Regions from separate parts of the Homo sapiens genome. Here regions 2, 3 and 4 are each reported to be linked to region 1. Evidence: microRNA targets listed by miRTarBase, many of them from high-throughput screens and not tested one by one. Region 1 holds a microRNA gene; each other region holds the end of a gene's coding sequence.
The links. Region 1 holds the annotated microRNA hsa-miR-4438 (CACAGGCUUAGAAAAGACAGU, at 1,921-1,941, opposite strand). A microRNA usually pairs through its seed, bases 2 to 8, with sites in the 3' UTR of a target mRNA and lowers its output. Matches are read on the target gene's strand: a 7mer-m8 pairs with bases 2 to 8, a 7mer-A1 pairs with bases 2 to 7 and ends in A, and an 8mer does both.

Region 2: the mRNA of RRP7A is a reported target of hsa-miR-4438. Seed matches in the 3' UTR shown: 7mer-A1 at 1,031-1,037 and 7mer-A1 at 858-864.
Region 3: the mRNA of TNFAIP8L1 is a reported target of hsa-miR-4438. Seed matches in the 3' UTR shown: 7mer-A1 at 1,206-1,212, 7mer-A1 at 1,340-1,346 and 7mer-A1 at 1,790-1,796.
Region 4: the mRNA of ZNF563 is a reported target of hsa-miR-4438. Seed matches in the 3' UTR shown: 7mer-A1 at 684-690 and 7mer-A1 at 1,327-1,333.

Annotation. Positions count from the first base shown.
Region 1 is chr2:213,756,933-213,760,062 of GRCh38, reverse strand. It overlaps MIR4438 (microRNA 4438), which reads right to left and starts at 1,996; the gene lies at 1,904-1,996. The region is part of intron 10 of SPAG16 (sperm associated antigen 16); the gene reads right to left.
Region 2 is chr22:42,510,285-42,513,284 of GRCh38, forward strand. It overlaps RRP7A (ribosomal RNA processing 7 homolog A), which reads right to left. Exons shown (of 7, transcript NM_015703.5): 7 at 1-2,711. The coding sequence ends at 2,626. It also overlaps the pseudogene SERHL. Among named protein-coding and RNA genes, the nearest start is that of RRP7A, 8.0 kb to the right of the region's middle.
Region 3 is chr19:4,651,839-4,654,968 of GRCh38, forward strand. TNFAIP8L1 (TNF alpha induced protein 8 like 1) reads left to right here. Exons shown (of 2, transcript NM_152362.3): 2 at 29-3,130. The coding sequence starts at 32. The coding sequence ends at 592. Among named protein-coding and RNA genes, the nearest start is that of TNFAIP8L1, 14 kb to the left of the region's middle. RefSeq lists a silencer at 2,894-2,943.
Region 4 is chr19:12,315,826-12,318,955 of GRCh38, reverse strand. ZNF563 (zinc finger protein 563) reads left to right here. Exons shown (of 4, transcript NM_145276.3): 4 at 1-1,479. The coding sequence ends at 362. Among named protein-coding and RNA genes, the nearest start is that of ZNF563, 16 kb to the left of the region's middle.

The DNA.
Region 1 (3,130 bases):
TTTTGAATTCTTTTTTTTTTCTTTTTTTGAGACAGAGTCTTGCTTTGTCACCCAGGATGGAGTGCCATGGCACAATCTTGGATCACTGCAGCCTCCGCCTCCTGGGTTCAAGTGATTCTCCTCCCTCAGCCTCATGAGTATCTGGGACTATAGGCATGTGCCACCACACCTAGCTATTTTTTGTATTTTTAGTAGAGACAGGGTTTCACCATGTTGGCCAGGATGGTTTCGATCTCCTGACTTCATGATCCACCCACCTCGGCCTCCCAAAGCGCAGGGATTGCAGGTGTGAGCCACTGCGCCCAGCCACTATTTGAATTCGTTATAGCTTATAGATGTTTCCCTACATTTCCTGCATTACTATCTTTTATATTTAGTTGTCTATTTTATTTTCTTTAGTGATTTGCTTAAATTTCTTTCTCATTTCCTTGTATATAGCTATTTTCTTGGTGGTTACCATAGGGATTATATTTTAGATCCTGCATATATAACATTCTAATTTAAATTTGTACCACCATAACTGCAATAATATATAAAAACTCGGCTCCTTCAAAAGCTCCATTCCCCCACCCTCTCAATTTTTGATGTCACAAAATTATATCTTTATGTATTATACAAAAATATAAACATGTAAGTATTTTAAATTCATTAGTCTCTTAAATTATGTACAAAACAAAATTGGAGTTACAAAGCATAATATGAACTTTTATACAAATTTAAATATATATATATTAACCTCTTAAAGCATGTAGAACACGAAAAGTGCAGTTAAAAAGTATTGTTACAATAATATAAGCTTTTATAATTTTCTATGTATTTTCCTTTATTAAGATCTTTATTTCTTTACACAACTTCAAGTTACTGTCTAGTGTCTTCTCATTTCACTCTGCAGGAGGATTTCTTGCAAGTCAGGTCCAATGGTAACAAGCTCTCCCAACTGTTGTTTTCCTGGGGATGTCTTAATTTCGCCCTCACTTTAAGGACAGTTTGGCTGGATATAAGATTCTTGTTTGATAATGTTTTCTGTTTTTGTTTTTCTTTAGCACTTCGAATGTCAGCCCACTGCCTTCTGGCCTGCAACGTTTCTGGTGAGAAATATACTGATAATCTTACTGATTATTCCTTATAAGTAATATATTGATGTTTTTCTGCTGCTTTTAAGATTCTATCTTTGTCTCCACCTTTTAAAGCTTTGATTATAATGTATTTCAGTTTATGTCTTTTTGAGTTCATCTTCCTTGAATTCTGTTGGATTTCTTGAATGTTTATATTAATGTCTTTTATCAGATTTGGAAAGGTTCTATCCGTTGTTTCTTCAAGTTTTCTCTTCTCTTTCTCCTCTCCTCCTGTGACTCCTTGATTGTGTCACACAGGTCCCTTAGACTCTGTTTACTTTTTTCAATTCTTTTTCCTTCTGTTCCTTGATTTCCATTGTCCTATCTTCAAGTTTACTGACTGTTTCCTTTGCTTGCTCAAATCTTCCTTTGAATCGCTCTAGTAAATTTTTTATTTAAGTTGTTGTACTTTTCAGCTCCCAATTTTTTTTAACTTCTTGTGAGGTTTCCTATCCATTGAATTTTTTTCATTTTGTTCATATATCATTTTCTTGACTTTCTCTATATCTTCCTGTAGTTCTTTGATCATTTAACACAATTATTTTAAAGTCCCTCTGTAGCAGATCCACCATCAAGTCATTTTAGGGATTTCATATTTTCCTTTGGACAAGACATAGTTTCTTAATTTTTTGTATGAATTGTGATTTTGGATCTAATAACATAGTAACTCTAAAAATTAGATTCTCCCTCTTACTGAGAGTTTGCGGTTACTTCAGTCAATGATTTTGCTTTTTATATTGTCATAAGAGGATTCTGTTGTAGGCTATCTCTGTGCCAAGAATCAGTCTGAAGTGTAAACTTAAAGACTGTCTTTTCTAAGCCTGTGCCAAAGGAAAGGCAAGGCACAGGCTTAGAAAAGACAGTCCTTAAGTTTACACTTAGTAACTTAGTCATTTTCTGATTGTCACCATATGTGCAGTTACTTTGAATGCCCTACTTTTTAATGTCTAGCTGTCAAAGGGGGAAAAACAGAAAAATAAAGTAGGAGAAGGGCACTGGCCCTTTTAATCTTCTGGAAGTCACTTCAGCCAGCAGGGAGGGGCTTGCAATAATGGATAGAGGTGCAACAATAACCACTCACCTCTTTGCGTCCATCTTTGTGACCAGAAACAGCAATCAGCAATCAGAGCAAAGATTGCCGATATTTGGATGACAGGTCCTTTTTTTGCCCACTCTGGTTCCTGCATGCTCTGTGCAGACTGCTCCAGTAACATGTGCACAGCTGCCTGCTACAGGGGTGACTGTGGGAAATGGGTAGCTACTACTGTGGTTAAGTGCTGAAATTGACTGAAATTAATCATAATTCGCCATGCAAGCTTTCCCCTAGAAGTTGCAAGCCTTTAGTAGATGTCAAAAATCCAAAATAGTTATATATCAGACAGATTCTGCCAGTACAATTGTTCTCTAGGTGGGAAGACAGATTCCTGGTGCTTCCTACTCCACCATATTTCTATAACTATTTCTCCATAATGTTTTAACTACTGTAATTTTGTAATATCCTTTGAAGTCAGGAAGTGCAGGACCTCCAGCTTGTTCTTTAGATTGTTTGGGCTCTTTTTGGTTCTCTGCGGTTGCATATGAATTTTAGAATTGCTTTTTCTATTTCAGAAAAAAAAAACAGCTATGGGTATTTTGATATGGATGGTATTTAACCTGTGGATAGCTTTAAGTAGTATGGACAACAATATTAAGTCATCTAATTCATGAATATATATGTCTATTTATTACCATCTTTATTTTCTTTAGAAATGTTTGTAGTTTTCAGAGAACAAGTCTTTAGTCTCCTGTTAAGTTTATATTTCTATGTATTTTTGATGCTATTTTAACCCAATTTTTAAAAATTTCCGTTTCAGATTTATGTTAGTATATGAAATCACAACTGATATTTGCATATTGATTTTGTGTCCTGCAACTTTGCTGAATACATTTATTAATTCTAGTAAGCTTTTTTATGTGGAATATTTAGGATTTTTTACATTCCATTTCTTTATTCCCTCTTTGCTCTATAAAGACAA
Region 2 (3,000 bases), not on the chromosome of region 1:
GGATTGTGAAGACATAAATTCTCTCTCAGAGCAAGTGTGGGCTCCAGCGCCTGTTCAGATCCCAGCTCTGCTGTTCAGGGCTGACTGTGACCAAGTCCTGAACTCCCTGCGCCCCAGCAAGGCTGTGCCTTCAGCACTTGCTTGCGCCTGGCTTGTGCCAGCTGAGCGTGAGCTGAGATTAACTGAGCCTCAAATCCAACCCAGGGTCAAGGGACCCAGCTGTGGGAGTTGGGGTAGCCCAGGCTTTGGTTTCTCCTCAGAGGCCTGAACCCAGGGCAGGATGGGGGCACCGCTGGGAGGCGGTTCTAAGATGAACCCCAACAACCCCCAACTCCTCACTTTCCAGAGCAGTCCACGGATATTTTGATCCAAGAGAGAATTACTCTGACAAGGAGTCCCTGTCGTTCATGATAGACACAATGAAATCCACCCTCAAAGAGGTAAGGCGGGGCTCAGGCAGCTGGTGTCCAGCCACTGTCGCCCACTCTGGTCCCACCTCACCCATCTCTTCTCATGCACTGGGAAAGACCCCTGGTCTGCCCCCAGGCCCAACAAGTGACCACCAGGATCTATCAGGCCTCATGCTCCAGTGATCAGTCCCTAGAGGCCTGGGGACACATGTAATCAGAATTTAAGAAACAGAGACCTTTGGTGGGGAGGTTCTTTACCATCCTCAAGTACCCACCCCTCCTTCTTGGGGCCAGGCACAATTAGGTGACCCAACTGCCAGAGACAGTCCCACATTTTTTGAGAGACAGGGTCTCATTCTGTTGCTCAGGCTCAGTCATAGCTCACTGCAGCCTCAAACTCCTGGGCTCAAATGATCCTCCCACCTCAGCCACCTGAGTAGGTGGCACTACAGGCGCATGCCATCATGCCCAGCTAATAGTCACACTTTTTTTTTTTTTTTGAGATGGAGTCTCACTCTGTCGCTCAGGCTGGAGTGCAGTGGGAAGATCTCAGCTTACTGTAACCTCCACCTCCCGGGTTCAAGCGACTCTCGTGCCTCAGCCTCCTGAGTAGCTGGGATTACAGGCACCTGCCACCATGCCCAGCTAATTTTTATATTTTTAAGAGATGGGGGTTCACCATGTTGGCCAGGCTGGTCTCAAACTCCTGACCTCAGGCGATCCGCCCACCTTGGCCTCCCAAAGTGCTGGTTTTGCAGATGGGAGCCACCATGCCCAGCCTAGTCTCACTTTATAGGCTCCCAAACCACAGCAGAACACCTGGCTGCCTCATCCCTCTGCACCCATCACGCCAGTGGGCATGCTGGCTGTAGGTGGGGATGGCCTTTGCCCGGGTTCCTGGGAGCACCTGGTGTTTTATGGTCACCTACCCACTTACACCTGACCCTGGGGCCTCTGCAGTTTTCTTGGCGTTGTCACCACAAAAGGAAGAAGCCCACCTGTGGCTGGCTGGCTGGCCGCCAGGTCAGAGCCAAGGCAGGCAGGGCCTTCCTGTCTGGCTTCTTGAAGGCAGACACAAGTCTGCAGGCTGCTCACGTCATCTCATTATCTTTTCTCACGAGGACTACTTCGGATACAATCACAGCAACCCTGGCCTCGGCCCTGCCCTGTCCCTGCCATGCAACTTCACAACTCAGCTGGCCTAGACCCCTGGGAGGCCTCCAAGTCCCTAAGGTTAGACATCTCCTGGGGTGCTATGGACTGTCGGGGCTCCAAGGAGCCGAGTGTGGGGGAAACTCACTGTGGGAGGCGCTCCTGACCTGCAGGGAGCTGGAATGCTGTGGGAGGGCCCTGACCCCGGGGCCCATGGAGCTCCCTAGGCTCCTCTGGCCACATCTCACTACCCACCCCCTCCCCTCTCCAGCGGTTCCAGTTTGTGGAAGTCCCAGGCAATCACTGTGTCCACATGAGCGAACCCCAGCACGTGGCCAGTATCATCAGCTCCTTCTTACAGTGCACACACACGCTCCCAGCCCAGCTGTAGCTCTGGGCCTGGAACTATGAAGACCTAGTGCTCCCAGACTCAACACTGGGACTCTGAGTTCCTGAGCCCCACAACAAGGCCAGGGATGGTGGGGACAGGCCTCACTAGTCTTGAGGCCCAGCCTAGGATGGTAGTCAGGGGAAGGAGCGAGATTCCAACTTCAACATCTGTGACCTCAAGGGGGAGACAGAGTCTGGGTTCCAGGGCTGCTGTCTCCTGGCTAATAATCTCCAGCCAGCTGGAGGAAGGAAGGGCGGGCTGGGCCCACCTAGCCTTTCCCTGCTGCCCAACTGGATGGAAAATAAAAGGTTCTTGTATTCTCACTGCTTTTGAGGCTTTTTCGTTGCCAGCAAGGGCTTTTGCATTGAGGGAAAAGGAAGCACAGAACGGATTCATCCAGGGTCCTGGAGAGGAGGGTGTGGAGGCAAGAAGCAGGAAGGACAAGTCCTCCTCTCGGCACGCCTGGGTCCCCAGGACTGCTGAAGCACAAGACCCGAGGGGTGGCCTGGTCCTTCCCTCCTGGCCTGTGTGGACTCTGATGGGGCTGTTGGACGCGGTGGCCTTCAACCTGGGGCCCGTTGGCCAGAGCTCGGCCTCTCAGAGACCGCTGCAGGCCCTGCCTCGCCTCCTCCTGGCCCTGCACCTCCAGCCATTCACTGCGGCTCTCACAGCTCAGTACGGTCGGAATTTGCGCTGGGCCCGCAGCAGCTCGATCCTCTGCTTGTCCTCCTCGAACTTCTTGCGCAGCTGCGCTAGATCTGGGGGTGAGAGGAGGCGCGGGGCAGGGTCAGACAGCGCGCCCCGGGGAAGCTGGCTTGCTCATGCCCCACCCCTCCTCCCAGTTACTGTGGGGGTGGGGCTATGTCTCCCCCACCAGCCCATCCCCCTCCCAGCTCTGCTGTGGGGGCAGGGTCTGGATCTTGTCAGGAAACAGAACCGACGGCAGGCCGAGTCCAAGGGCAAGGCCAAAGTGGGAGATGCTGGCACCCCCAGCCTGGAGATGAAGCCCTAGCGACAAAGCAAAGGTACCCGCCCCCACCCCCATCC
Region 3 (3,130 bases), not on the chromosome of region 1:
ACTGAGGGCTGGTCTGTGTCCCCCGCAGGCCATGGACACCTTCAGCACCAAGAGCCTGGCTCTGCAGGCGCAGAAGAAGCTCCTGAGTAAGATGGCGTCCAAGGCAGTGGTGGCCGTGCTGGTGGATGACACCAGCAGTGAGGTGCTGGATGAGCTGTACCGCGCCACCAGGGAGTTCACGCGCAGCCGCAAGGAGGCCCAGAAGATGCTCAAGAACCTGGTCAAGGTGGCCCTGAAGCTGGGACTGCTGCTGCGTGGGGACCAGCTGGGCGGTGAGGAGCTGGCGCTGCTGCGGCGCTTCCGCCACCGGGCGCGCTGCCTGGCCATGACGGCCGTCAGCTTCCACCAGGTGGACTTCACCTTCGACCGGCGCGTGCTGGCCGCCGGGCTGCTCGAGTGCCGCGACCTGCTGCACCAGGCCGTGGGTCCCCACCTGACCGCCAAGTCCCACGGCCGCATCAACCACGTGTTCGGCCACCTAGCCGACTGCGACTTCCTGGCTGCGCTCTACGGCCCCGCCGAGCCCTACCGCTCCCACCTGCGCAGGATCTGCGAGGGCCTGGGCCGGATGCTGGACGAGGGCAGCCTCTGAACCCCGGCGCCGCCCAACCGCGCCCCTCGCGCCTTTTGGGGCTCTCCTGCTGGGCGCGGGTGGGGTTTGTGGGTTTTTTTCCACCTCTTTTCTCCCAATCGGACTCCGGCCAAACTCCCCTAGACAGATGGGTGACCTGTCTCCTTTGAGAGGATGCTGAGGCATCTGTAGCAGCTGTTTCAAACACCAATGTCACCTCTCCTCCTGGCCCCCGCCCAATGGGGAGAGGAATTTGGGGCCCTACTCTGGGGACCACCTTTCACCCGTTTGTACTTTCTGGGCCACGCCGACCCCTGGGTCGCTTGATGTAAAAGCCAAAAGCTGCTGCCTCCCACTTGGATCATGTCGCCTGGGATTTTCATCCCTCGCACAAGGACTACGGGTTCACACGGTGAACTGGGGGAAGGGAAGTGTTAGGGGGCAAGTCGCGGCACCCCCCCTTCCATAAACTCACGTCCTAACCCCCAGGACCTCAGAAGATGATCTGATTTGGAAATAGGATCATTACAGATGGAATTAGTTCAGATGATCTCATCTTGGAGTAGGGTGGGCCCCAATTCAAGGACTGGGGTCCTTAAAAAAAGGGGGCCTGGGGCAGGGCGCGGTGGCTCACGCCTGTAATCCCAGCACTTTGAGAGGCTGAGGCGGGCGGATCACGAGGTCAGGAGATCGAGACCATCCTGGCTAACACGGTGAAACCCCATCTCTACTGAAAATACAAAAAATTAGCTGGGCATGGTGGCACATGCCTGTAGTCCCAGCTACTCGGGAGGCTGAGGCAGGATAATCACTTGAACCAGGAGGAGGAGGTTGCAGTGAGCCGAGATTGTGCCACTGCACTCCAGCCTGGGTGACAGAGCAAGACTCTGTCTCAAAAAAAGAAGCGGGGGAGTGGGGGATTGAGGCCACGTGCAGTGGCTCACTACTCTAATTCCAGCACTTTGGGAGGCCGAGGCAGGAAGATTGCTTGAACTCAGAAGTTCAAGACCAGTCTGGGCAACATGGTGAGACCCTCGTCTCTACAAAAAAAAAATTATCGTGGTGGGCCGGGCGTGGTGGCTCACACCTGTAATCCCAGCACTTTGGGAGGCTGAGGCGGGCAGATCACAAGGTCAAGAGATCGAGACCATCCTGGCCAACATGGTGAAACCCCGTCTCTACTAAAAATACAAAAATTAGCCGGGCATGGTGTTGCGTGCCTGTAGTCCCAGCTACTTGGGAGGCTGAGGCAGGAGAATCGCTTGAACCTGGGAGGCGCAGGTTGCAGGGAGGCGGAGGTTGCAGTGAGCCGAGATTGCACCACTGCACTTCAGCCTGGTGACAGAGCGAGACTCGTCTCAAAAAAAAAAAAAAAAAAAAAAAAAAAAGTGACTGTGGTGGTGCACACGTATAATCCCAGCTACTTGAGAGATGACGAGGGAAGATCACTTGAGCCCAGGAGTTAAGAGGCTGCAGTGACCGATGATCATGCCACTGCACTCCAGCTTGGGTGAGAGTGGGACTCTGTCTTAGAAAGAAAAAAAAAAGTATTTGGACACAGACATGCATGCAAGGAAGGCCAATGATGCCGGCCACCACCAGGAGCTGGGAGAGGCCCAGGGCAGATCCCCTTCAGCCTTGGAGGGACCTAGCCCTGGCCACACCTTCATCTCAGACTTGCGGCCCAGAGAACTGAATGAGAATAAATGTGCGTGAAGCCCCTCAGTCCACAGGATGTGGTACTGGAAGCCCCCACTCAAGAAGGCTCCAGTGAATGCTGGCACGTTCAGCCAGGATGCCTCCGTGAAGCTGGAGACCTCTGCCCTGGGTCGGGAGGGGAAACTGCTCCAATCCAGGGACTGCCACATGGGAGGGGACGGAGCGTGCCCACCTCCCAGGGGTGAGGGGGGACCCACCTGAGATGTGTGCACATTTTATTTATTTATTGTTTTGAGACAAAGTCTCGCTGTGTCACCCAGGCTGGAGTGCAGTGGTGAAATCTCGGCTCATTGCAGCCCCTTCCTTCCAGGCTCAAGTGATCCTCCCACCTCAGCCCCGGGTAGCTGGGACTACAGGTGTGCACGAGCACACCCGGCTAATCTTTGTATTTTTTGTAGACAGAAGGTCTCACCATGTTGCCCAGGATGGTCTCGAACTCCTGGGCTCAAGCGACCTACCTACCTCGGCCTCACAAAGTGTGCACATTGTAATATCGTGATTTCATATTTGGAGAATCAGCAACCAACCAGCCAACCATGTTGCTTTTATAAGACAGAGCTGAGAAAGCAAAGCTTGGCTGTCGTCTTGGCTCTGGTACCACCCACGAGATGCGGGCGATTCTCAGCTCAGGGCGTGGAGGCGTGGTGTGGGGGAGTCTATTTGCCATTTTTGTTTGTCAGCAGGGGGCAGGGGTTCTCAAAGATTGCAAAATGCTGCTGCAGGTCAGGAAGGTTATTTTGGGTGCCTGTGGGGGAGGTGAAACAAGGTCCCATGACTGTTTTGCAGAACCTTGTCTGTGGAGGGTAGAGGTTGCGGCAGGGGCCTGTGGGCCTTACTTGG
Region 4 (3,130 bases), not on the chromosome of region 1:
GAATTCACACTGGAGAGAAACCCTATGAATGCAAGCAGTGTGGGAAAACGTTATCTCATAGCTCAAGCTTTCGAAGACACATGATAATGCACACTGGAGGTGGACCTCATAAATGCAAGATATGTGGGAAAGCTTTTGTTTATCCTAGTGTATGTCAAAGACACGAAAAGTCTCACAGTGGAGAGAAACCCTATGAATGCAAGCAGTGTGGGAAAGCGTTATCTCATAGCTCAAGCTTTCGAAGACATATGGTAATGCATACGGGAGATGGGCCGAATAAATGCAAGGTATGTGGGAAAGCCTTTGTTTATCCCAGTGTATGTCAAAGACATGAAAAGACTCACTGGAGAGAAACAATATGAATGTAAACTATTATAAAGCCTTCTATATTTCCAGTTCCCTTTGATATCATGAATAAACTTACACTGGACAGAAACCCTATAAATGTAAATGTGGGAAAGCCTTTCATAATTTTTATTCCTTTCAAAATCATGAAATATCTCACACTGGAGAGATGCTGTATGATATAAGGAATGTGGGAAAGTGATCGATTTTTTTTTAACACCATTGTCAACATAAAACAACTCACAGAGCAGAAAAACTCTGTGAGTGTAAAATATGTAGGGAAGCCTTCAGTCATTTTGGTAACTTAAAAGTACATGAGGCTGGGCACAGTGGCTCACGCCTGTAATCCCAGCACTTAGGGTGGGCAAATTGCTTGACCTCAGGAATTTGAGGCCTGCCTGGGCAAAATGGTGAAACCATGTCTCTACAAAAAATAGAAAAAGTAGCAGGTGTGGTGGTATGCCCCTGTAGTCCCAGCTACTTGGGAGGCTGAGGTGGGAAGATCTCTTGAGCCCAAGGGGTGGGGGTTGCAGTGAGCCAAGATGCACTGCACCCCAGCCTGGGCGACAGAGCCAGACCCTGTCTCAAAAAAAAAAAAAAAGTACATGAAAGGATTCACTCTGGAGAGAAGTCATATGAATGTAAGAAATGTAGAAAAGCATTGAGTTCTCTCAGGTCCTTGCATAGACATAAAAGGACTCACTGGAGAGATACTCTATAAATGTGTGAAATGTAGGGAAGTATTCTTTAATGTTATTTCATTTCAGATAGAAATAATTCTCATTGGAGATAAACCCTATGAATGTAAACACATAGTAAAGCCTTAATTTTAAGCCTCAGTTTCTTTCAAATACAGTTATCCCCTAATATTTGCAGGAGCGTGGTTCTACCACCCCCTGGGCATACATAAATCGACACATGCCAAGTCCTTTTTTAAAAATGACATATTTGGTACAAAATTACCCGGATGTGATGGCACATGCCTGTAATCCCAGCTACTCAGGAGGCTGAGGCAGGATAATCACTTGAATCCGGGAGGCGGAGGTTGCGGTGAGCCAAGATCGCGCCACTGCACTCCAGCCTGGGCAGCAAGAGCAAAACAACCTCTGTCACACACACAAAAAAAAAAAAAAAGGAAAGAAAGAAAAGACATATTTGGGTTAGACACAGTTGCTCACCTCTGTAATCCTAGCACCTTAGGAGCCCAAGACAGGTGGATCACTTGAGCCCAGGAGTTAGAGGCCAGCCTGGGTAATGTGGCAAAACCCTGTCTCTACAGAAGATACACAAATTAGCCAGGTGTGGTGACATGTACCTGTAGTCCCAGCTACTAGGGAAGCTGAGGTGGGAGGATCGCTTGAGCCTGGGAGGTTGAGGTTGCGGTGAGTCAAAATCACATCACTGCATTCTAGCATGGGCAACAGAATGAGACCCTGTCTCAAAAAAATAATAACAATAAAAAATATTTGCATGTAACCTACCCACATCCTCCTGTATACTCTAAATCATCTGTAGATTAGTTAAAATACATCATGCATCATAGAAGCTATGTAAATAGTTGTTATTATATTGTTTAGTGAATCATGATATGAGAAAGACCCTACACATATTCAGTACAGACCCACCCACATAATACATGTCACCTAGAGCATTATAAATCTTTTCTTTCAACACTCATAGATTGCTTTTGTTTAATGACCTGAAAATGTGTTAACATTCACCCAACAAAAGTGTAATGATGATTATTGCAATATCGTGCCTAATGTTGTGATGTGTTGAGTCAGCTAGATGTGTGACACCACAGATAAGCAGTGAGACCTCAGGCTAACTCGAATCTTGACAGGATGTCAACATGATCAACTATATTGGAAGAAACAGATTCTGACTGCAGATACTGAATTTTTGGAGCAGTCTAAATAATACTAATGTCAGAATCTGTTCAATTTGAGGACTGAAGATCTTTAAGCATTGAAGGCTGTCTTCATATTTGCAGATATTTAATTAGAAACATTGTAGGAAGCTAGTTTTTTTTTTTTTAAACTTTGCAACGTTTGTGAGCATGTAATCTCTGGGGTGACATGGAGGCTTTGTTCCATGGAAGAATCTTAATTGAGGATGATAATCTTTAACACTTGCGCCTTGTAGAAGCTGTAGGTGCCCTAAAACTGCTTCCAATTTTTCTTTTTTTTTCTTTTTCTTTTCTTTTTTTTTTTTTTTAAGACAAGATCTCACTCTGTCACCCTACAGTGCATGGCTCACTGCAGCCTCAACTTCCTGGGCTCAAGTGATCTTCCCACCTCAGCCTCCCAAGTAGCTGGGATTATAGGCACACATCACGATGCCTGGCTACTTTTTGTGTTTTTTGTGGAGACAAGGTTTCACCATGTTTCCCAGGCTGGTCTTGAACTCCTGGAATCAAGAGATCTGCCTGCCTTGGCCTCCCAAATTACTAGGATTACAGGGTGAGCCACCACACCCAGCCTTCAGATTTTTCAAGTATCAAAATCTATAGCACTGCTTCTTTTTTTTTTTTTCAGACAGAGTCTCACTCTGTCGCTGAGGCTGAAGTGCAGTGGTGCAATCTCAGCTCACTGCAGCCTCCACCTCCCAGGTTCAAGTGATCCTCCTGCATCAGCCACCTGAGGAGCTGGGATTACAATCTCAGCTCACTGCAACCTCCACCTCCCAAGTTCAAGTGATCCTCCTGCCTCAGCCACCCAAGTAGCTGGGAATACAGGCATGCACCACCATGCCCAGCTAATTTTTGTATTTTTAGTAGAGACAG